Homo sapiens: one gene and its partners. The protein of the gene in region 7 purifies or fractionates together with the protein of the main gene of each other region. This does not show direct contact. Each region holds a gene or a part of one and is shown on either strand. Other genes may lie near its edges.

Region 1 (3,500 bases), on a different chromosome or scaffold from region 7:
TGTGCGCAGGCGAGTGTAAACTGCACGGGCGCGTGTGCTCACCGTGTGCGCAGGCGAGTGTAAACAGTGCACGGGTGCGTGTGCTCACTGTGCGCAGGCGTCTGTAAACAGTGCACGGGCGTGTGTGTGCTCACTGCGCAGGCGAGTGTAAACTGCACGGGCGCGTGTGTGCTCACTGTGTGCGCAGGCGAGCGTAAACTGCACGGGCACGTGTGCTCACTGCGCAGGCGAGCGTAAACAGTGCACGGGCGCGTGTGTGCTCACTGTGTGCGCAGGCGAGTGTAAACTGCACGGGCACGTGTGCTTACTGTGCACAGGCGAGTGTAAACAGTGCACGGGCGCGTGTGCTCACTGTGTGCGCAGGCGAGTGTAAGTGCACGGGCGTGTGTGCTCACTGCGCAGGCGAGTGTAAACTGCACAGGCGCGTGTGTGCTCACTGTGCGCAGGCGAGTGTAAACTGCACGGGCGCGTGTGTGCTCACTGCGCAGGCGAGTTTAAACAGTGCACGGGCGCGTGTGTGCTCACTGTGTGCGCAGGCGAGTGTAAGTGCACGAGCGCGTGTGTGCTCACTGCGCAGGCGTCTGTAAACAGTGCATGGGCATGTGTGCTGTGTGTGTGCAGGCGACCGTAAACAGTGCACGGACGCGTGTGTGCTCACCGTGTGCGCAGGCGAGTGTAAACAGTGCACGGGTGTGTGTGCTCACTGTGCAGGCGAGTGTAAACTGCACAGGCGCGTGTGCTCACCGTGTGCGCAGGCGAGTGTAAACAGTGCACGGGCGCGTGTGCTCACCGTGTGCGCAGGCGTGTAAACTGCACGGGCGCGTGTGCTCACTGCGCAGGCGAGTGTAAACAGTGCACGGGCGCGTGTGTGCTCACTGTGCGCAGGCGAGTTTAAACAGCGCACGGGCGCGTGTGTGCTCACTGCGCAGGCGAGTGTAAACTGCACGGGCGCGTGTGCTCACTGCGCAGGCGAGCGTAAACAGTGCACGGGCGCGCGTGTGCTCACCGTGCGCGCAGGCGAGCGTAAACAGTGCACGGGCGCGCGTGTGCTCACCGTGCGCGCAGGCGAGCGTAAACAGTGCACGGGCGCGCGTGTGCTCACCGTGCGCGCAGGCGAGCGTAAACAGTGCACGGGCGCGCGTGTGCTCACCGTGCGCGCAGGCGAGCGTAAACAGTGCACGGGCGCGCGTGTGCTCACCGTGCGCGCAGGCGAGCGTAAGCAGTGCACGGGCGCGCGTGCTCACCGTGTGCGCAGGCGAGTGTAAACAGTGCACGGGCGTGTGTGTTCACCGTGTGCGCAGGCGAGTGTAAACACAGCTGGTGCCCTGGTGCGTGTGTGCTGTGAGCACAGGTGTCTGTAAATGATGTAAACCTCCCTTGACGTCAGGCCCAAAAGCCTGCCTTGCCCTAAGGTCAAGAGGTGTATCTGGCTGATGCCAGCGTCTGGGTGAGGAAAGAGCAGGTTCCACAAGGGCGACTCCTGTGAGGGTGTTGGCCTGAGCGCGCATGCGGGGAGGGGTCGGGGTGGGGGCGGCGCGCCGCAGTAACTCAGGGCCCCATCCCGCTCCCGTCTGTCCAGCGGTCCTAGACCCCCATGTCCTGAAGCGCACCTGTGCCCACCTGGCCCCGGGGAGCGCAGGTGTGGAGATGGGGTGTCGTGCCTGGGGGTTCCTTCCCCACGCGCTGCCCCACCAGGATTTCCCTGGGGTGGGGAGGGCTGCTGAGACAGGGCGCTGCCCTCCTCCAGGGTGACTGAGATGCAGTTTACAACCATGATCTCCTGGCCGGGCGTGGTGGCTCACGGCTGTAATCCCAGCTCTTTGGGAGGCCGAAGTGGGCGGATCACGAGGTCAGGAGATCAAGACCATCCTGGCTAGCACGGTGAAACCCCGTCTCTACTAAAAATACAAAAAAAAAATACTAGCCGGGCGTGGTGGCGGGCGCCTGTAGTCCCAGCTACTCGGGAGGCTGAGGCAGGAGAATGGCGTGAACCCAGGAGGCGGAGCTTGCAGTGAGCCCAGTTCACGCCACTGCATTCCAGCCTGGGCGACAGAGCGAGACTCCATCTCAAAAAAATAAAATAAATAAACAACCATGATCTCCCGTTTCAAGTTGCCACCACTAACTGTAGCCCCGCTGACGGGGGCACTGGCCTTGCAGACTGTCCAGGACGGCCGGCAGTTTCTAAAGTATGTTGACCCCAAGCTGGGAGTCCCACTGCCAGAGAGAGACTACGGGGGAAACTGCCTCATCTACGACCCAGACAATGAGACTGACCCCTTTCACAACATCTGGGTAAGACGCCGGGGGCCCTGAGGCGAGCCCCTCCCCAGGTGTGGCCCCGTGCCGGACCAGGCGCCATCCACGCTCCTGCCTCGCACCCCTCAGCCCACACTTGGGGTCTCCTGGTGCAGAGATGTGCTGAGGCCCTGTCCGTCTGGATGGTGCTCATGGTGGGCAGGGGGCCCCTGCTCTCTAGGCTGTCGTGGACGTGGTCTCCACAGGCCACGGCAGCACCTGTGAGTCCCTGGCCTTCTTCCCGGGGTCTGGCAGGTGCTGCTCAGGTGTGGGCTGATCTGCCGGTGTGGGGAGTGGGGGTGGCTGTGCCCCAGGGTCAAGGGTCATACCCTGTCGCCCACAGGACAAGTTGGATGGCTTTGTTCCCGCGCACTTTCTTGGCTGGTACCTGAAGGTACGGCACCTCCTCTTCCCGGCCTCCCCGCCCCGGTTCTGAGGCCTGCCGTGGGCTCTGGACCGTTTCTGTCCATGGAGTTGAGCTCAGGGTGCTCTGAGTGTGGTGGGAGGGTGTCGCACTGCAGCCACCCAGAGGTTCGAGAAGCCGTGGGGCTCCCGGACCTCCCAGAAGCCCTGATCCTGGTCGGGTCCCCGCTCCGTCCTCAGGGTCGGGGCGGTGGAAAGAGGCGGCAGGGCAGGAAGTCCCGCCCCTGCCTGGGCTTGGGCACTGCCCCATCCCACTTCTGAGGGACCCTGTGCTACCTATGGGGCTAAGAGCAGTGCCTGCTTGACCCTGCAGCCCACCCTGGCAGAGTTTGGTGTCAGGCCCCGGGCACGGGGATGCTGCCTTGTTTGCTGACAGTCGTACATCGAGGCTGCTGGAGGGGCAGCCACCCACCCCACGCTCACCCTGAGACCTCACTGGGGGCCCTGCCAGTGCTGTCGACTCCAAGAATGCTGCCAGCCGGGGTGGGGGCTGCACGCACCCGTGGGCAGGGCCGGGCGTGGCCTGCGTCCCATACTCTGGCTGCCAGCCGGGTGGGGGCTGCACGCACCCGTGGGCAGGGCCGGGCGTGGCCGGCGTCCCATACTCTGGCTGCCAGCCGGGGTGGGGGCTGCACGCACCCGTGGGCAGGGCCGGGTGTGGCCGGCGTCCCATACTCTGGCTGACCCTGGCGCCCACAGACCCTGATGATCCGAGACTGGTGGATGTGCATGATCATCAGCGTGATGTTCGAGTTCCTGGAGTACAGCCTGGAGCACCA
Region 2 (3,500 bases), on a different chromosome or scaffold from region 7:
CAGTTTAGAGCAATGGTGCTTATTTGAAACCAGGACTTCTGTATGGGCTTCTCCTTGCAATATTAAAGAATATGGACTTGTGTCTTTACTCACTAAATGGAAATGTTGGTTGTTGTTGTTGTTGTTTTTTTCCTCTAGAGATGGCAGATCCTGAGGTAGTTGTGAGTAGCTGCAGCTCTCATGAAGAGGAAAATCGCTGCAATTTTAACCAGCAAACATCTCCATCTGAGGAGCTTCTATTAGAAGACCAGATGAGGCGAAAACTCAAATTTTTTTTCATGAATCCCTGTGAGAAGTTCTGGGCTCGAGGTAGAAAACCATGGAAACTTGCCATACAAATTCTAAAAATTGCAATGGTGACTATCCAGGTAAGCATCTCAGATCATGAGTTTGGTGAAAGCCTCTTTTAATTACAAAGATAACTATGGACAGTGGTTTTTTTTTTAAATAACTTTTAACTATATGCAAAATGTTGAAGAGTAACAGATAAGAAAACATACAATCTTAGACCCTTCTGTCTTCAACATTTGTGAAAGAGTTTGTCTTCTTTTTTCTTAGTTTTTTTCTTGTATCGTTCGCTAAGTTATAATTTTAGTCACATAATCTAATTAATTTTCAGGAAAAGAAAACTAATATTTGGCTTCCAATGAAGAGGTTCAGCTGGTTTCTAAATAAGCCATGGAAACTAGTGTTGTCCAACATTAGGACTTTCTTTTCCTTCCTAGTTAGTTTCCTGGGAATTTCTCTCTTCAGAAACTTAAAGGGTTCCTGCTACAGGCAAATTCTTAGATTCTCACAACCCTGTGATCATGAGAACCATGCAATGGAAGAATGTGAAGTTAACTAACAGAAGAGGAGTGGCAGGAGCTAGTGAAACACAGGACCTCTTTTTAGTTCAAAGGGAGCTTTTAAATCACATTTCCTTGGCTGCTTTTAATATTTTTTTGGGGGAAAGGGGGAACCATATTTTGTGATTCTTAATATATACTGGTTGTGATTTATTCTTATGAAAATATGTTTTCCTGTTGGTCAAATTATCTCTTGCTAAAAGCAAAGGGCAAAATAGAAGCAGATTTTAGTGAGAAAAATAGATGTGATAGGTTTATTTTTATTATTACTTACTCTTCCTAAGTTGGTGAAAAATGCCTAAGTAAATAAACAATTGGTATTGAAGGAGAGATTAAAAAAAACAGGATATTACTAATTTTAACTGCTTATTGAGAACAAACACTTATGATTGTTAGGGAACCAAGGCAATTTTTACAATCATATGAAGTTGGTAGAATTCTTGCTTGTTTCTAATGCTAGGTGTTGTATCAAGGGAAACAAACATTTAGTGACTACCCTGTTCCAGTACATTATTTCATTTAATTCTAACATTCTTACTGGCTCATTTTACAGAAGAGGAAACTGATGTTTGTAGAGCTCTTTTAAAGTCACATGGCTTGGCCAGGCAGGGTGGCTCATGCCTGTAATTCCAGCACTTTGGGATGCTGAGGTGGGTGGATTGCTTGAGCTCAAGAGTTCCAGACCAGCCTGGGTAACATGGTGAAAACCTGTTTCTGTAAAACATACAAAAATAAGCCAGGTGTGGTGATCACACCACTGCACTCCAGCCTGGGTGACAGAGCGACACCTTGTCTCAAAAAAAAAAAAAAAGTCACATGGCTAGTCAGTGGCAATATCAAGACTTTGAAGGCAGGCATTCTCTCTATTATATTACCCTGAAAATGGATGTTCAGTTCTCAGCCAAATACTTGGCAAGTTGAAATTGAAATTCTTAACTTCTGAGTGATAATATGGTGTGTCTCAATAGTGAAAAGTTTAGTTTCTTATAAAGGAGAAAAGCCTGTATCAATTGAACATGAATATTTTCTACTTAGAATAATAATAGGTACCACTTGAGTGTTTGCTGTATACCAGGCTAAACATTTTATAGATGTCATCATGTTCAATTCTTTTTTTTTTTTTGAGATGGAGTCCCACTCTGTCACCCAGGCTAGAGTACAGTGGCGCCATCTCAGCTCACTGCAACCTCCGCCTCCCGGGTTCAAGCGATTCTCCTGCCTCAGCCTCCTCAGTAGCTGGGATTACAGGCACACACCACCATGCCCGGCTAATTTTTGTATTTTCAGTGGAGATGGGGTTTCACCATGTTGGCCAGGCTGCTCTTGAACTTCTGACCTCAGGTGATCCATCCACCTAGGCCTCCCAAAGTGCTGGGATTACAGGCGTGAGCTACAGTGCCCGGCCCATACTCAATTCTTAAAACAAGTTGGAGGGTAGGTAGTGGTATCCTCATTTCACAGAGGAGAACAATGAGGGTCTTGGTAAGGAAAAGGACCCTGTCATAGTCAGGAAACTAGAAGAGTAGAACTGATATTCAAACTCAGATTTATTTTCTCTAAGATTTATGTTCGTAATTACTTCTTAATTTTTAGGGAGCTCATCTACCTTCCTATGTTTACTAAGGTGGTCAAGGGAAAACTGAACAATGGTTTAAGATATTAAGGCTGCTAGTAATAAGCATGTAAAAGGTGTTTAGGTAAGTTTTTAAAAGGAACTGAGGGTTTCTTAATTGTGATGTTTCCTTAATTTATATCAGAGCAATCAAACAAATATTAGATAAAGACAGCTTTGTAATTGAGCAAATGAAGTGAGCAAATGGTGACAGATTATCTCAGGGAAAATGAGGTGGTCCTTCTGTTAAACTGGAGATTTTGTGTCTGCAGCAGCAAAAGAAAGATGTTTACAATGATAGACACCCTACTAAAAATTTCTCTTTTCCCACTACCTGGCTTACTCTCTGAATTACAGCAGTTTTCTCTCAGCCATTGTTATTCCTGTCTGCCACTAAACCTTTGAGGGCAGGGACCAATTGTCTTCTCATTGTATCCTCAGTCCCTAGCTCACTGCTGACACAGGAGAGGTACTCATGTATTTGAATGACTGGTAAGAATATCTTTGGGAATTCTTTGGGGCTGTTTGGTCATCAGCTTCAACAGATGCAAAATCCCTAGAATATCAAGATGTCATCTTATTGAGGACAATTAAAGAAGCTCTGCAGAAAAGAGAGTTAGGTGCAGAGTGATGATATGTGTGGGGTGCAGACCATATATCATATGTGGAAGGGAGAGGGGAAAAGATTTGTCTGCTGTATTTTTTCTGATCAAACCCTGGATTACTTTGTGTAGCATGACAGGGTGGATAGAACCTAGATTTAGTGTGTCAGACATGGGTTTCAGTTTTCACTGTATCAACACTGGCTAGTGATGTGACTTGAAAAAACTATGTAACTTCTCTGAGCCTCATCTCTAAAATTGGTGTATGAGGAATACACCGCAGGATTAGTATGAGGAAAGTTCCTGGAATAGTGTATGGCACATAGGTGCTCAACATTGTTCCCGCCTTCCATATAAAATATACTCTGCCTCACTCTGGGATTTAAGTAAGGGTGTAGTTTCTCAATTTACAGCATGTACAGCATGTGGTGTGTGTGT
Region 3 (3,500 bases), on a different chromosome or scaffold from region 7:
TGGCCTTCGGGGTACCCATGACCTCCCTGACTCCACCTCCTACCATCCTCCGCTGTGCTCCCTCTGCTCCAGCCACTCTGTGCATTTCTCAAACGCCCTGGGGTGATTCCCACCTGGGGCCTTTGCACAGCTGTTCTTGCTGCCAGGAATGCCCCTCCCCCAGACACCTTCCTCACTTTCTTCAGAGCTTCACCCAGATCCCGCCTTTCTCAGTATCCCAAACTGCAATCCTCCATGCCCTACTTTCTTTTTCTACTCAGCATTTATGATCCTCTATCTTTTACTTATTTTGTTTGTCAGTTTTCTCCACTAGGATGTCACCTCCTTGCGGGCAGAGACTTTGTTTGCTACACCCCCAGAACCTGGAAATGTGTCTGGCATAGAGTAGGTTCTCAGCCAATATTTGTTGAATGAATGAATGAATGAATGAATACAAGTTTGGCTTCCACATCTCAGCTTAGGTATTCAGATGCTGCTGCCCTGGGTGATGAGGTTCAGGATCACCCCACGCAGGCCTCTCTGGAAACTCTGCTACTCCTCAGCACCCCACTTCCCAGAGAACTACCCTAAAATGGCAGCTAACACTTCCAAACAAAGCTTCCCTCCTGGCCCGGCCTTTTTTAGAGCTAGTGCACTTGGCACTGGCTCTCTGACTCATGGGCGAGGCCCCCACCCGCAGCTGCTCAGTTTACAGAATCCAGCAGTGGGCACAGAATGGTGGCAATGTCAGGAGAAAAACTTTCCATGACTATCTGGGCCATGAGTAATTGCAAAGCTCTCCACCTCGTTCCAATCCTGAAACAGTTTCTGGACACATTTGTCAAACACAAGGACTGATGAAGCCTTTCACTTAAGCGCTGACAACACAAGACATCATCCCAAATGACCAAGGTGACAGACCCGAGAGGATCGTGCTGGGGAGAGGAAGAGGATGGCATTTACGTCACCAGACCCCCTTCCAAGCACTCTGCTGCTGATGATCACCAGGACCTCAAGGCCAAAGACCAATGGAGATGCCCAAGGTGCAGGTCCTGCCTGCCTCCACTAATGCTGCAGAGCCAGCTACCCCCGCTAAGCTCCCCTGGCCTGGGCACCTCTCCCTCCTGCCCTCACCTGGCCTGCACAGTTCTCCAGAGTGTAGCTCAGGCAACAGCTGCCTGCACTTCATCCCAGCCCTGCCAACCTTGGGCAAGACACCCAGCCTTTGAGTGCCTCAATTTCCTCATCTGTAAAGTGGGTAAAATAACAGTACATACCTCACAGGGTTGTCGTGAATACTAAATGAGTAAATACCACCAAAGTGCCCAGAGCAGGCCTGCACAAGGTAGGTGCTCAATAGATTTTAACCAACACCACTAAGAAAGACATGGTCTCCCTACCCCCGACCCCCAGAAGCTCCACTTTCAGGAGCCCTTGAGAATCAGGAAAGCCTCCGCTCTGCCACCAACTCCTACTTCCCTGCCATCCACCCACACCACCCATCTTCAAGTTGGGAAGAGAGAAAAGAGAACATTTATACCACCTGGGGTCCCCGACAGCCCCCCAGTCCCCACAGGAGCAGTGTCTACCGTGTTCCTGATGCAGCAGGTGTAGGGCACCCCACAGGCCAGGGGTCCAGGGGCACTGCAGTCGTGGTACTGATTCTTGCTCCAATCTCGGTAGTCCTCCCCGCCACAGCACTTGAACTGAGGGAAGCAAGCAGGAAAGAGGAGCTGCCGTCATCGCCCAGGCCCTGCTCAGACGACAGGAAGGGGCCCTGTCAGGAGACGGAGGCAGTTTATTATGTGGGTCACCCTGGGGCAGGGAGAGGCTGTACACTTTCAAGTCAGAGCTGTCAAAGTGTGGCATGGCTGCCTAGAGGGTAGTGAACCCCCTGTCACTAGAGAGGTATGGAAGCCAAGGCTGGGCTGCCTCTTGGTGGGATATCAGGGTAGTGACTAGGCACTGGGAGGAAAGGTCCTTCCTTGACAACTGGCCTCCACTTTCTTCATCTTCGTGTCCCCAAATGCAGGTGCTAGGCTGGAAAAGATGGCCCTTAAAGTCCCAGAGACCAAGCATGATTCTGTGAAAGTCCCTGCACCTCAACCAACCTTCGCACCCACCCTAGGAGCCACCCCGTCCAGCTCAGCTGGCCCTGCCCTTAGCAAGGAGAGCACCCACACCTCACAACCTGCCTGGAGCTCTCCCCTTAGCCGAGCCCCTCCCTGCCTCCCCTCCCTGCTCCTGTAGGAAGTAGTTGGTAACCCTCCTGATGGCTGGTATGTGCCTGGCATTGTCCTGGGCACTGGAGAGACAGGGTGAGCAAAAGCAAGGCAGCCCTTGCTCAGGTGGAACACATTCCAGTGGAGAGACAGAGAGTGAGCACTGGATGGAAAGGTGCTGTGCAACCTGGAAATGGAGAAATAGGGGGAAAGTGGGGAGGGGCAGCTCTAGGTTGGCAGGTCATGAAAGGGCTCTTTGTAGAGAGGATATTTCATCTGAAACATGGAAACAGAAAGAAGCCAGACGACCCATGCAAAGGCCCCACGCAGAAACAAGCTTGTATTTCAGCAGCAGGTGCGGAGGCCAACAAGCCTGGAACAGAGAGAGTGCAGAGCATGAGGATGAAAGGGCGGCACAGGCTGGACCATGCAAAGCTTTGCCAGCCAGCTGAAGCAGGGAGCTGGGACTGGAGGGCTCAACCAGGGCTGCAGTACACGTCCTGGTAGCCAGACACCTTTCAGAGTCCCCACAGTGCCCCTTAAGCCACCAGGTTTTGGGACCTAGAACTGTCTTTCTGCAATGTAGTTCAAAGGGCATTTGTCTTGCAATGGAACAGACCCAAGGTCAAATCCTCAGACCACCACTCCCTGCTGTGCAACCTCAGGCAAGTTGGTCAGCCTCTCTGAGCCTCAGATGGTTGTCTGTAAAGCAAGAATAAGGATGGCAGCTCTGCACAGCTGAGCTGTGATTACATAGAGTGCCATGCATGAAGCACTCAGCACTGGACCTGGCACCAAGCAAGTGCCCATTCAGCATTAATCACCTCCTACCTCTATGCCAGGAGAAATGAAATCCCCAAGCCAGCTAAAGGCTGGTTCCAATAAAAACATCTCACTCCACCCGGAGCAGAAGTCAGCTCTCCCAGCCCAAGCTGGCAGGCACATCCCTGGCAGAAAAAGACCTTCCAGAGGCTGCACCTGTTGTGACTGAAGAGAAAGTCTGGGCCAAGGGAGCGGCCACAGCAAGTGGCCCTGCATGTGGGGAGAGGCTAGTCCCCACTGAGAGCTGGCACAAGGATCCAGGCCAGCTGAGGCCCCCAAGATTATGTCCCAGGAAGTGCTGTCCCGGCTGAGTGGGCCTGCAGCCCTCACTCTACTTGTCCTCACCCAGGAGAACATACCAATGATCCCCACAGCTGGCACTGTGGTCTCACCCTGTGCTTGGCACTGTTCTAAGCACGTCTCCTGAATTAAGTCAAGGTAATCCTCATGACGACGCCCCAAGAGCTCCTGTCATTA
Region 4 (3,500 bases), on a different chromosome or scaffold from region 7:
CTAGTCATTTTCCAGTCTTCATTTTTCTTGTCATAACAGCAGAACTTGACAGTTGGTCATTCTCTTTTCTTTGAAATGCTTTTGTGTCAGTAGGCTTCTGTTTGTTTGTTTATTTGTTTGTTGTGAGACAGTCTTGCTCTGTTGCCCAGGCTGGAGTATAGTGGCATGATCGCAGCTCACTACAACCTCCGCCTCTTGGGTTCAAGCAATTTTCATGCCTCAGCCACCCAAGTAGCTGCGATGACAGGCATGTGCCATCACGCCCAGTCTTTTGTCAGTAGGTTTCTATAATACCACAATTTCCTGGCCTTTTCTCCACCTTGCTGGCTTTTCTCAGACTCTTTACTGGATCCTCCTCTTCTCCCCCTGCATCTAAATGTTGGCAAAAGATGTAAGTAATTTCATCTAGTTTCATGGCTTTAAATATTTGTTGGCTGATGATTCCTAAATTCGTATCTTTATTATAGGCCTTTCCTTTAACTCCAGACTAATCCAACTGTACTTGAATGTCTAAAAGGCATTGTGCACTTGACATGTTCAGAACAGCTCTTGACGTTGCCAACACTACTACTTGACCAGCCTGTCTTGCAGAAGTCTCCATCTCAGAAATGATGATACCTCTATTCTTCTAGTTGCTCAAAAAGCTTGAGTGTTGTCCTTTGACTCAACTTTTTGCCCTCCCACATCTTGTTTGCCAGAAAGTCCTGAGGCCTCTTTCGCCTAACCACCTGTACCCTCATCATTTTCATCCAAGCCACCACCATCTTTCTCTTTTTAACTACTCTCCCTGCTCTGTCCTTGCCCTGCCTTCCAACTCTGTATCAGCTCAACTAGAGCAATCCTTTTAAGCCATAGATCACATCATCACATTTGTATGCTTCACATTGTGGTTTTTCATCCCATTCAGAGTAAAAGTCCTAAAGTTCTTTCTTTGACTTGCAAAGTTTTTCATCATCCTTGAACATTTCCACTCCCTTGTCCTCCTTAGTTTTCCTATCCTTACTTCAAATCCTCCCACTCTCCCTGAGGGACATTCTGCGTCAGGGCTGTGGCACTTGCTGATCACCCCTCCGGAATAGTTTTCCTGCAGACGTCCTCATGGCTAGCTCCTGCTTAGGAGGCATCTTATCTAAAATTTAAATCTCCCCTTCAACATTTCATATCCTCTATCCCTGCTTTACTTTTTCTCCTTTGTACGTGTATCTCAACCTATTAACACCATTTTACTTATTTATCGTGTTCATTGTCTTCCCCACTAAGATGTCAGCTCTGGGAGGACAGGCATTTTTGTCTTATTTTATATACTGCTGGAAATTTAGTTTATATATAGTTAGTATTTCCTTACATCTGTAACACTAGAAAGTTACAGATACAAGAAGAATGAGTCTTTACAGAAAGGATTTATAGTTTAATGAAGAAGAAAAGTCATAACTACAGTTATTTTGATATGTGTTATGATAGAGTTTTGCACCATGTTTGTGGAACTACAGAGAGGCTGGCTAAAAAGTTGGGGAATAGAAAGTTTTTCCATCAAAAAAATCCGAGCTGAGTCCTAAAGAATGGAGTTTATTAGAAGCAAGGGGAAGGGTCGTATGAGGAAGCTGAATGATTTATAACATCATTCCTTTGAACAGTAAGTCTATAGCTAGGACTATATTCTGAGGAAATAACATGACTACTCCTGATAAAACAAGCAAACAAAAATAAAACCTCACTACGTGGTTCTTTGCAGTAGTATTTATAATGTCACAATTATATTGGAAACACTCTAAATGTTCAAGAGAAAGGGAAGAAACTGTCCACATATATTTTGTGAGATTTTAATGACCCAGAAATTGGGTATTTTCTAATGTTAAGTAGGAAAAAATGGATCCATATTGTCGTCAGGTAGGTGTTGGCCATATCCTGACAGTCGCACAACATGCCATACCAAAAAGATGAGAGTTTATCTTGTAAACTTTGGAGAGCCATGAAAAAGTTTAAGCAGTAGAATGACATGATCACATTTTTGTTTCAGAAAGACTTTGGCTCTATGGAGGAAGACTTTTATTGATTTAAAGCCATTCAATAAGATATCAACAGTACCAGAAGTTTTAGTTTGAGATACCTATAGGATAACCAGGTGGAAGTATCTAGTTGTAGAGGACTTTGGGTGGTGCTGTTTATCAATCAGTATCAAAGCATTTTTATGTAATATTTTAAACAAATATGGCCATACCGGTAGGTGTTGGTTGGCTCTTAGCTGTGGTTATGACAAACAGTGTGGGTGTTGACATTCAGGTTAGAATTAAATGTGGCAAAGCCATAGTTCCTATTCTAGTTGGTATGTATACATATCTAGAGGGCATATTTCTGTAAAACATGCTGCATATTGTTTATGCTTAAGTATTTAAGGAAAGTCATAATGAAAAATCTTTGTAACAATAAAAACTTGGAAGGAGGAGAAAGGATAGAGTAAAATAGTCTTACTAGAACCATATGTAGGAAGCTGTCAGTTTGAAGGGCCAGATAGTAGATGGTTTAGGCTTTGGGGACCATATGGTTTCTGTCACAGTTTTTCAACTCTGCTGTGGTAGTGTGTGGTTCCTGGGACAGCGCCTCTGCTGTTGTAGCACAAAAGCTGCCATAGACAATGTGTAAATGAATAGGCATGGCCAGATTCAGCATGGTTTGCCAACCCTTAGACCATTAGTTGATTTGATAAAGTGATTTTGTGAATGGTTTGGACAAGAAAATAATCTTTACTAGCTATTATATACCATTACCATAGACTTTTAAACAGAATTTATGATAGCATGCTGTAGTTCTTAAATATGACCTTTAAGAGATTGCTAAAATATACCATAGCACTGTCAGAGCATGGTGGTTAGATTAATTGTACCCATTATTTAATAACAAATAATGATGTTTCTTCCTAGACAGGAAGAAGTATGAATTAAGAATTATGTGACTTAACACTAGATTTCTCCTCCCTAAACCCAAATCACCAAGATACTGTTTTGGAGCAAAACGTAGTGTCCCAGAGGGTAGCATATCAGTGTCATCTTTCTGTAGATAATGACTGCAAATTTGAATTATGTTTGCAGAAAAGTGAAAGTAAAAATTGGAAGTAGCAATTCCTTCACAATTTTAGATTAGGTTTGGGTGGAAAGAATGTATGCCTATAATGATGCAAATGTATTTCTTCCACAAATCTTATTTACTTAGACAAATTAAAGGAATTTAATTTTTATATTTTGAATCTACAGATTATTCTTAGATGTAATAGTATGTGGTATGCTTTAGAAATTAAGTATATAAACTTTTCTTTTCTTTTTTTTTTGAGACGGAGTTTTGCTCTTGTTGCCCAGGACGGAGTACAGTGGCGCAATCTTGGCTCACCGCAACCTCCGCCTCCTGGGTTCAAGCAGTTCTCCTGCCTCAGCCTCCTGAGTAGCTGGGATTACAGGCATGCACCACCATGCCCAGCTGATTTTGTATTTTTAATAGAGACGGAGTTA
Region 5 (3,500 bases), on a different chromosome or scaffold from region 7:
CTTTCAGATTTGGGTAAACAGTTATTTACATGTTTCTAATGGAATCTTAAATTGGTTTGGTAATTTGAAGAATTTTTCACAATATTTGAATCTTTAATTCTACATTGAGAATTATATTTAAGAAAATAACACAAATATATTCAGAATTATTTTACATTCATATTGATAATTTAGCATTTAATGTTCATTAGGTTGTTTAGTAAAAAAACATAAAATTTACTTTTTAAAAAAATTAAGGACAGTGATTATTATTCTAAACTGCCTCAGAAAATGGAAAGTTGATTTGTAGTAGCACAGAAGAGGGGAGGGAATATGCTATATGACACATAAAGATTCTCTTTGTCAGTTAGCTATGAGATGCAAAATAGCATCTACTTACTAAGGAACTTTTGTACTTTGTAGAATATCTTTGATATTTAGTTGACCCTTGGTTCTCAGAAAATAAGTGGCTTGTAATTTGACCTTTTGCTCTATCATGTTTTCTTTTTTATAATCTGCTTGACTTTGATGAGTGTTTTTCCAATGTTTCATTTGTTTTTGCAAGGTTATTTTGCCATCCTTTCCTTCCATGATGTGATTCTTCAGGCCAAGAAGAAAAAGATGTGTCTGTAGCTAAAATTACCTCATCCTTGGTGTTTTTCAGCCTAGGATCACTATATGTAGCTAATGCCGTTACATTACAACTAAGACAAGTTCCAATACTTTTTTTTTTCTCCTCGATCTGCAGAGATTCACCAACAATAGCAAATTACACACTGGCTTGGAAAGTACTCCCATGTTCCGTTTGATCTTGGCAATTTAATGGTATCTTCTTTTACAGTTTTATTTAAATGTTTCATATTGCTTCGTTTTTCTTCCTTAAGTATTTGTAAGTTCATCAGCTCTGTGATGAACTTACAGAGAACTCGATATTCTTTATAGTACCCCAGCACCCAGTTATGCATGTGATGTGTGCACAAAACATTTTTATTGAGTGGATAAAACATAACCTTTTTGATTGATTCAGGGAACTAAAATAAAATGTTTCTTTAATAAGTACAAATTTTCTGAAGCACAGATGAAATTTAACTTCATATGATTCTGCCAAATGTGATAGAATACATGTTTCCTGCTCAATATGGTAATAGTCAAGAGAGCCAGAATACCAAAGTAAGAAGAAAAAAAAAATCACAAATATTTGAATAATTTAAATCAATTCAGCAACATCTAAATAATTATAACTGATTTAAATAATTAAAAATCCGTTATTGGCAATGATTGTCATATGTACAACCAAGAGTTGCACGACTTATATTTTCTTTTTGTAGGATTTGACTTGGCTGAACGCTAACTCTTTTTAGGACTGATTTAATTATTTATTTGTTCTTTGGTCCTGTGCTAATTTTTATGAGCTTATTATGCAGTTAAATTCATTATAGTTTATTTGTCCCAATTACTTATTATACTTGAACTTTTTCTTTTTGCTTAGATGTACTTTATTACATATTTGATTTCAGTATTATGTCACATTATTAAATAGTGCTTATTGTTACCACCACAAATGAAAGTAAAGTTGTGAGTTATATAATAATTAAAAATATATGTTTCATCTACTTGTGATCATCAAAATATGTGAAAATACATATGAATGCATTAAGATTTACCCCAATTTAATTTTGTTCTCTCTTTCAGCTGTTCTTGAAGACTAATTAGTTACACTGGATATGCTGCTGTTCTTTACTTTGGGATTGCTTATACATTTTGTGTTCTTCGCCTCCATCTTTGACATTTATTTTACATCTCCTTTGGTTCATGGAATGACTCCTCAGTTTACACCATTGCCTCCTCCAGCGAGAAGATTAGTGTTGTTTGTTGCTGATGGCCTTCGAGCAGATGCACTTTACGAATTAGATGAAAATGGAAACTCTAGAGCACCGTTTATTAGGTAAGCATGTAAACTGATACAGAGACATCTCTTAAAATGTTATTCTGAGTTAAGTAAACTGCAAAATATCTTACTATTTATCATGCACTGGGCACAGGGGTGATGATGAGAAAGAGAATAGGGCACTTGTACATTTGCCTTTGTCTTATGGGTCAGCACTAGATGCTACTTTATTTCCTCCTAGGTGTTATTTCTGGTATTGTTGAAGCTGATAACCGGTGAATTGAAATGGATAGGCTTAGCTGCTTAAGCTAAATTGTCCTAATTTCCCAAACTTGGCTCAAGACTCACTATATTATTTTTTTCTTAAAAAATAAGTCTGCTGGCTGGGCACAGTGGCTCACGCCTGTAATCCCAGCACTTTGGGAGGCTGAGGCACAGGGATCACCTGAGGTCAGGAGTTTGAGACCAGCCTGACCAACATGGAGAAACCCCGTTTCTACTAAAAATACAAAAAATTAGCTGGGGGTGGTGGCACATGCCTGTAATCCTAGCTACCTGGGAGGCTGAGGCAGGAGAACCTGCGAGGCAGAGGTTGCAGTGAGCCGAGATGGTGCCATTGCACTCCAGCTTGGGCAACAAGAGCAAAACTCCGTCTCAAAAAAAAAAACAAAAAAAAAGTCTGCTAATTTTACAAAATAAAGACAAGCATAAATATTAATGAATTACTAATTTCAATGATGTTTAAGTACAAAATATAGACTTCAAATTAAAACACAACCTTCTGTAAAAGAATATAGAGCCCTTTCACTTCTATATCACTGTTTAACATAACTTTGGCTTCTGTTAAGTTGCTTTAAAAAGAAATATTTAATTTCTTGGACTTACAAAGGGCCTACAAACAATTGCTCTTTTTCTGATTAGTGGCAACTCCTGAAAGGCCTTGTAATGCTGTTATGGAGAGATTAAAATAGAATTCAAGAGGAAATTTATCTAAAATGTTGTGTCTTCCCCCATCTCCATCTGTCATCATTACCTCCTATCATTTTACTCTGTTTTCTTTTTCTTTTTCTTTTTTTTGAGACGGAGTCTCGCTCTGTCACCCAGGCTGGAGTGCAGTGGCGTGATCTCAGCTCACTGCCAGCTCAGCCTCCCAGGTTCACGCCATTCTCCTGCCTCAGCCTCCCGAGTAGCTGGGACTACAGGCGCCCGCCACCACACCCGGCTAATTTTTTGTATTTTTGGTAGAGACGGGATTTCACCGTGTTAGCCAGGATGGTCTTGATCTCCTGACCTCATGATCCACCTGCCTTAGCCTCCCAAGTGCTGGGATTACAGGCGTGAGCCACCGTGCCTGGCCTGTTTTATTTTTCTTTATAGTACTTCCATCATGAAAGTTCCATGAGACTGGGGACTTATCCACCACTTTATCTCCAGTTCCTATAACATAATGGGCAATTAACAAATATTTGTTGACAGCTAGAAGAATGGATGAACTCTAATGCTGTGTTGAATTTTCAGAACTAAATTTACGATAGCTCAGAGAGATGCATAACATATTGAAGGATAAAAATAAAGAAAAGAGAGACTCAAGTCAATAGACGAACATTGTGGGAAAATAAGATCAAACCAAGGT
Region 6 (2,793 bases), on a different chromosome or scaffold from region 7:
TGGTGGCCTTTCTGTCCTCTCGAATACGTTTCCGTAGAGCACTATGAGGAAATAAAAACAAGTGAAAGGAAGTGCACACAGAGCAGGACTTGAGTACTCTAACACAGAGGACCTAGGCGCAAATAAAACCATCCACATAGTTTTCACCCTATTTGAACACTGGAATAATGAGGGGAAAAGCCTCAATATTCTTTTGAGACAGCGTCTTGCTCTGTCACCCAGCCTGGAGTGCAGTGGTACAATCTTGGTTCACTGCAACCTCTGCCTCCCACGCTCAAGTGATTCTCGTGCCTCAGCCTCCCAAGTAACTGAGACTGCAGGCGTGCACCACTATGCCCAGCTAATTTTTTGTATTTTTAGTAGAGACAGGGTTTTGCCATGTTGGCCAGGCTGGTCTTGAACTCCTGACCTCAAGCAATTCACCCGCCTTGGCCTCCCAAAGTCCTGAGATTACAGGTGTGAGCCACGGCGCCCGGCCAAGAAAAGCCTCAATATTCTTTAATGATTCAGAGATGTACCTTGACAACCATTCCTGGTACAGTTTTATATTGATAACTGCTTTTAGTGGGACCTGAAAATAAGCAAGGTACTTTCTTGACACGTGAATTGATGACTGTTAGTTTTCTTTCCTTCCTTGTTAACTAGTCAGCAGGAGCAGGAGTGGGAAGACAAGGGGGTACCACTTGCATCTGATCCCATTTCCTGGTCACGTTTGATGGTTAAGGCTCTTATAAAAGCTAGCTATTTAATATTTCCATGAATATTCTGTTGTGGGAGCACTTATTCTTTTATTTGACCATACACATTTCTACCTCCCATTTTCATAGTCAATACAGAAATTTTTTTGGGGTGGTGGGGGAGGCGGGGTGGATGGAGTCTTGTTCTGTTGCCCAGGCGGGAGTGCAGTGGCACGATCTTGGCTCACTGCAACCCCCGCCTTCCGGGTTCAAGCAATTCTTCTGCCTCAGCCTCCCAAGTAGCTGGGATTACAGACGTGCACCACCACGCCTGGCTAATTTTTTTGTATTTTTAGTGAGATGATGTTTCACCATGTTAGCCAGGCTGGTCTTGAACTCCTGATCTCAAGTGATCCGCCCACCTCAGCCTCCCAAAGTGCTGGGATTACAGGCATGAGCCACTGTGTCCGGTCTCAGAAATTTTGTTTCAGTGGAAGGTCTCTGACTCTCAAGATACTTAGTTCTGGTTCTATATAAATAATAATGCCATCCAGCTACTCAGGAGGACGGCTTAAGCCCAGGAATTCAAGTCCAGCTTGTGCAATATAGCAAGTCTTGCCTCTCTATAAAAGCACACCCACAAAAACAAAAAAACGGCCAATGGCAACATATAGGTTACTATTTCTTCCATTCCCTCTTTTCACTTTTCTGTATTACAGCAAAGGCCTAACCAGCTTCCCTGCCCTCAAATTAAATATTATTGCCATGGTAATTTTTCTAGAGCATACCCCTGGACACGTAGCTTGATTTAAAATCTTTTTTTTTTTTTTTCGTTACCGGGCCTAGTGCACGATGGTGCTTAAAAATCTCAAATGCCTCTTCAATGTCTCCTACATTGAGACTACCTTTTTCCTGGCCAAGACGTTTAACCTGAATTTAACTATGATAAATAATGATTAAAGAAATGCATTGTATGGGGCATTCTAAAAGATATCTGGCCTAGAAGCTTCAAAAATACAAATGTCAAGCAAGGAAGAAAAAGGCAGGGAACAGTTCCAGATTAAAGGAGACCAAAGAATCACATCAACTAAATATAGTATCAATCTTTGATTAATCTTGAAATATTTTTTAAACAGCTACAGAAGTTGGGATCAGGAAAATGTTCTAAAATTAGATCGTGGTGCCAGCTACACAATTTGGTAAATATATTAAAAGTCACTGAATTGTATACTTTAAATGAGTAAACTTTATGCTATATAAATTATATTTCCATAAAACTTTATTAAAAAAGCTATATGGTGAATCTTTCAGACAAGAGAAATCTGAATTGAACTATGTATTAGAATATTTTAATCAATGTTACACTTCTTTGGTGTACTGGAACCTTCTCTCCCCAAGAGATTGTTAGTGGGAATGTAAAATGGTTCAGCTGCCACAGAAAACAGTTTGACAGCTCCTCAAAAAGTTAAACATAGAGTTACCATATGACCTAGCAATTCCACTCCTAGATATGTACCCAAGAGAACTGAGAACACATGTCCATGCAAACGCTTGCCAATATTCTCCTGCTATGCAGAACTTTGTTCTTGCCGTTTTTTTGCTGTTCTCCAAATTTGTTCCCCACTAAAATAGAAACCTTCCCTTCTCTCCTGTCCTCTCATTTCAGTTCTACTCTTCAATTATCTTGCTCCACCCCCTCTAGCCCTTCTATTCTTACGGCATTTAATTTGAAGTAATTTATAATTTACTAATAATGTGCTAACTTGGGTACTTGTTTTATCTTCATCACATATTCTGCAACTTGAGGACAGACTGGGTTTTGCTATCTTTGTTCATCTTATGGTGCTTTCTCATGTCTTTTTCACTTTTTGTTATCATATATACAGGTATCCCTGGCTGTCTGAACTCCATCTGAATATCTGCTATAATGACTTGCAAAAATTCTTACTCAGAATTCACTCTCTGAATTGAAAATTCACTATCACAAATATGCATGTACCTGTTAGTGAAAACATTTGTGTTCAAGTGTAGGCAAAATATGTATAAAAACAGAGAGGGGGTTAGCCTCCCATGGGCCCTTTATTAGCTTTTGCCAGGAGCCTGGGGGTATCGTTAA
Region 7 (3,500 bases):
GAAATGCTTTTTTTAAAAAAGAGTAGAGAGGTGCCAAACAGGAATCAAGAAATTCTGCTTTCTCTTGTCTTCAGAACATGTGATAAAGCTCAGTCAATGAGATATGCCTTCCTGGTGAAGGAGATACTCAGGGGATGAGACATGATGAGTCTCTCATTTGGTGTCATGCCATAGTGTGCCCGCCCTACAGGGTACCCCGGGTCCTGTGAGAGGCTAACATTCAGGTGGGGGGTGACAATGAGTTACTGAGACAGCAACAATCGACACTTTACTTGAGGCAGCTGAATATTGGAAAAGAAGCCTCTTAACTGCAAAACCGAATTGAGTCAAATGACATTTCTAAAGTGTGTCATTAGATGACTTTTTCTTAGAGCCCCTGAAACTCCTCCTCCAAAGAACAGTGTGTCCTACAGAAGCTCTAGAAGTATTCCTCTGCCCACTTGTTTGGGAAATATCTAAATTCCAAAGACAAGAAAATTACACTTTAAGAATCAGTTGAGCTGAATGTATTTTACATGTGATTTAATGACATCAAAGTGAGATCTGGTGAGAATGGTGGTCATAGGGACCACGTGTGAGATAGGAAGTGCTGAACCTCAAAGAGACAGTGTGAGATGTGTTGCAGGTGGCTGCTTTGCAAGGGTAGGTTCACTGGTTCACCAAGAACTGGACACAGGGCTCAGCACATTTCCCTGCATCTCTCATCTGCCACTCGTAGATAACAGGGTGTCTTATTCTCAGTTCATTAAAGAAGGAACAGAAATATCTACTAAAAAACTTCTTAGTGTCTTCACATCAACATTTTCTTAATAGAAAATCTGCAGCCTGTTTCTCCAAGGAGCTGGTGACTGCTGCCTGAGATCTGAGATGATAGAGCAAGTTGTGAACAGGATTCTTTACACGTTGAGGTGATACCCACGCCAATCTGTCACCAAAACAGTTTCCTTAAAACAATTCACACAGTTTTTCCTGTGAAAACAGTGGCTTGGGGAAGGCCGAATCATTTTCAATGACTGTGGCTGGCATACAGGTGAACCTGACAACCACCGTTTTTATGGAGAATCCTGATTCTTAACCACAGTGACATTAAATTTGTCATTATCTAGAATTGTACATTGTTTATACCTAACACGTGCAAAACACCATCCTAAGAGACATGGAATTTATCAATTTTGGTTCATTGACTTATTCTGACATGAGAATAAATGAAAGGAAATTAAAGTAGTGTCTTATGAACAGGACGGAGTAGGCCAGCTTCTCATAGCTCTGCCGGGAACTTCCTGCCCTGTGGCCTGTGTATCTGGTTCCCTCTGGGCCTCCTTCTCTCAGGGACCCCACCCTCTGGGCCCCCCTCCCTCCGGGACTCCTCCCTCTGGGACCACCCTCCCTCTGGACCCCCTCCCTTTGGGACCCCTCCTTCTGGGACCCCCATCCCTCTGGACCCCTTCTCTCTGGGCCCCCTCCCAACTCCTTCTGCCGACAGGGATCCATCACACAGGCGCCCCAGTGCTGGCCTTCTGTTCACCAAGAGTTACTCACTTTCTGGGGTGCATCTCGTGATGACTGCTAGCATGGAACCGTTATATAATTACTTGTTTACCTGGCAGCCTTTTGAAGCTCAAGTACGCGTTGAGTCATCGCTGCACTTCAGTGCCTCTCCTCCGTAGACAGTTCATAAACATTTGTTGAACTGAGTTCAACTTAAATTCAGAAAATACTGTGTGTCACGGTGCAGTTAAACAAATGCTTACCTTAAATGGGGGCCCGTTGGGCATCGAGTGCACGGCGTGCCGGGCCGTCCCTCCCTTTTTGGCCCCCGCTGCTCTTCCCATCGTCATCAACTCAGCCTCCACGTGATGGGGAGGTCACTCCCTCCCATCCGGTCCCAGCCCCACTCACCTGGGAACCCGTGCCGCTGGCCCCACCTTGGCCTAGCATCCGTCCAACCCTGCAGCGACCGCTCCCCACAGCCCCTGCTCCCTTGTTCTCCAGAGCCGCGCCCCTGCTGCAGGCCTCCCCCTCGCTGTCCCCAAGCCCCTGCCTTCCACCCACACTGCCCACTCCTTCCCACCGTCCCCGCCTCTGTCCTTATGGAGTCCTCAAAAGCTCTTCTTGCCCCAGAACCTCCCATTACCCCTCAGTGCTCAGCGGCAGATCCTTGCTGTGACTGTTTATGGCACTAAGTGTCTGTTCCAACACATTTGCGCGGAAGAGTACGCAGGTACTTTTAAATTAACTTTATTGAGGCTAATTTATATGCAATAAATGTCACCGATTGAAGGGTACAATTCAACAGGTCTTGACAAGGGCACCCAGCCATGTGCCACCCCCACAATCAGGATAGAGGACATTTCTGCCACCACAAAAGCCCCTTGTGTCGCCCAACCCCAGCCAATCCCTTCTTCCCGTCCTGATGACAATCCCTGATTTCATTCCTGCCACTGTTATTTTGCCTTTTCTAGAAATGTTAGGGGTGGAATGGTGCAGTGCATGGTCTCTTCTGCCTGGATTTCTTACCGAGCGAAGGTTTTGAGTCACCCCCGTTGGAGCATGCATTAGTCGCCCGTTCCTTTTCATGGTTGAGTAGTATATGCTGTTGCATGGATACACTTCAACTCGGGTATCTGCTCACCAGTTCACAGACATTTGGGTCTTTTTCAGTTTGGGACGGTTAAGAATAAACCTGCTGGGAATGTTCCAGTGTTAATCCTCCCATGTCTCTTGGGTAGACATGTAGGAGTCGGTTGCAGGTTCCCATGGTGGATGCATGTTCAGCTGTGCAAGAAAGGACCCCACTGTCTCCTTGGAGTGGCTGTGTGATCTTGCAGTCCCACCAACAAAGTGTGAGAGCCCCAGATGCACCATGTCCTCTCCCAGCTTCCAGCCCCCTGTTTAATCTTAGTCCTTCCAGTGGGATCTCTGTGTGTGTGTCTGTGTGTGTGTGTGTATGTGTGTGTGTGTTTTGGACGGAGTCTCTCTCTGTCACCCAGGCTGGACTGCAGTGGCGTAATCTCAGCTCATTGCAACCTCCGCCTCCCGGGTTCAACTGATTCTCCTGCCTCAGCCCCCCAAGTAGCTGGGATTACAGGAGCACGCCATCACGCCTGGCTAATTTTTGTATTTTTAGTAAAGATGGGGTTTCACCATGTTGGCCAGGATGGTCTCGAACTCCTGGACTTAAGTGGTCCGTCTGCCTCGGCCTCCCAAATTGCTGGGATTACAGGCCTGAGCCACTGTTCCCAGCCTTCATTGTGGTTTTAATTTGCATTTTCCTCATGATTAATGGCATTGAGCGTCTTTTTTGTGTGTGTATTTGCCATCCATGTATTTTCCTTGGTGAATTGCCTGTTCACATTTCCCCCTGTTTCTTATTGTTTATGTTTTTGATAGGGAGTTGTAAAAATTATTTGTATATTCTGGATATAACCTATTATCAGATATAAGCTTTAACATACTTTTTTCTATTCAATATATATATGTTTCACTTTCTTGAGTGTCTT

The links.
Region 1: the proteins of CCR6 (region 7) and PTDSS2 purify together in Homo sapiens (affinity purification with mass spectrometry; one large-scale study listed by BioGRID and IntAct). This does not show direct contact.
Region 2: the proteins of CCR6 (region 7) and MCOLN3 purify together in Homo sapiens (affinity purification with mass spectrometry; one large-scale study listed by BioGRID and IntAct). This does not show direct contact.
Region 3: the proteins of CCR6 (region 7) and TSPAN15 purify together in Homo sapiens (affinity purification with mass spectrometry; one large-scale study listed by BioGRID and IntAct). This does not show direct contact.
Region 4: the proteins of CCR6 (region 7) and SLC39A10 purify together in Homo sapiens (affinity purification with mass spectrometry; one large-scale study listed by BioGRID and IntAct). This does not show direct contact.
Region 5: the proteins of CCR6 (region 7) and PIGN purify together in Homo sapiens (affinity purification with mass spectrometry; one large-scale study listed by BioGRID and IntAct). This does not show direct contact.
Region 6: the proteins of CCR6 (region 7) and PTPN2 purify together in Homo sapiens (co-immunoprecipitation; one large-scale study listed by IntAct). This does not show direct contact.

The regions. Positions count from the first base shown.
Region 1 is NC_000011.10:484,779-488,278, forward strand, and holds part of PTDSS2 (phosphatidylserine synthase 2), read left to right. Parts: intron 1-2,112; coding exon of another isoform or gene 2,113-2,160; coding exon 2,161-2,295; intron 2,296-2,641; coding exon 2,642-2,692; intron 2,693-3,420; coding exon 3,421-3,500. UniProt on the Homo sapiens protein: Catalyzes a base-exchange reaction in which the polar head group of phosphatidylethanolamine (PE) or phosphatidylcholine (PC) is replaced by L-serine. Catalyzes the conversion of phosphatatidylethanolamine and does not act on phosphatidylcholine.
Region 2 is NC_000001.11:85,042,001-85,045,500, reverse strand, and holds part of MCOLN3 (mucolipin-3), read left to right. Parts: intron 1-138; coding exon of another isoform or gene 139-140; coding exon 141-368; intron 369-3,500. UniProt on the Homo sapiens protein: Nonselective cation channel probably playing a role in the regulation of membrane trafficking events. Acts as a Ca(2+)-permeable cation channel with inwardly rectifying activity.
Region 3 is NC_000010.11:69,496,465-69,499,964, reverse strand, and holds part of TSPAN15 (tetraspanin-15), read right to left. Parts: intron 1,757-3,500; coding exon of another isoform or gene 1,686-1,756; coding exon 1,569-1,685; intron 1-1,568. UniProt on the Homo sapiens protein: Part of TspanC8 subgroup, composed of 6 members that interact with the transmembrane metalloprotease ADAM10.
Region 4 is NC_000002.12:195,730,226-195,733,725, forward strand, and holds part of SLC39A10 (zinc transporter ZIP10 precursor), read left to right. Parts: intron 1-3,500. UniProt on the Homo sapiens protein: Zinc-influx transporter. When associated with SLC39A6, the heterodimer formed by SLC39A10 and SLC39A6 mediates cellular zinc uptake to trigger cells to undergo epithelial-to-mesenchymal transition (EMT).
Region 5 is NC_000018.10:62,159,557-62,163,056, reverse strand, and holds part of PIGN (GPI ethanolamine phosphate transferase 1), read left to right. Parts: intron 1-544; exon of another isoform or gene 545-727; 5' UTR 728-804; intron 805-1,671; 5' UTR 1,672-1,703; coding exon 1,704-1,924; intron 1,925-3,500.
Region 6 is NC_000018.10:12,794,445-12,797,237, forward strand, and holds part of PTPN2 (tyrosine-protein phosphatase non-receptor type 2), read right to left. Parts: intron 42-2,793; coding exon 1-41. UniProt on the Homo sapiens protein: Non-receptor type tyrosine-specific phosphatase that dephosphorylates receptor protein tyrosine kinases including INSR, EGFR, CSF1R, PDGFR.
Region 7 is NC_000006.12:167,129,596-167,133,095, forward strand, and holds part of CCR6 (C-C chemokine receptor type 6), read left to right. Parts: intron 1-3,500. UniProt on the Homo sapiens protein: Receptor for the C-C type chemokine CCL20. Binds to CCL20 and subsequently transduces a signal by increasing the intracellular calcium ion levels.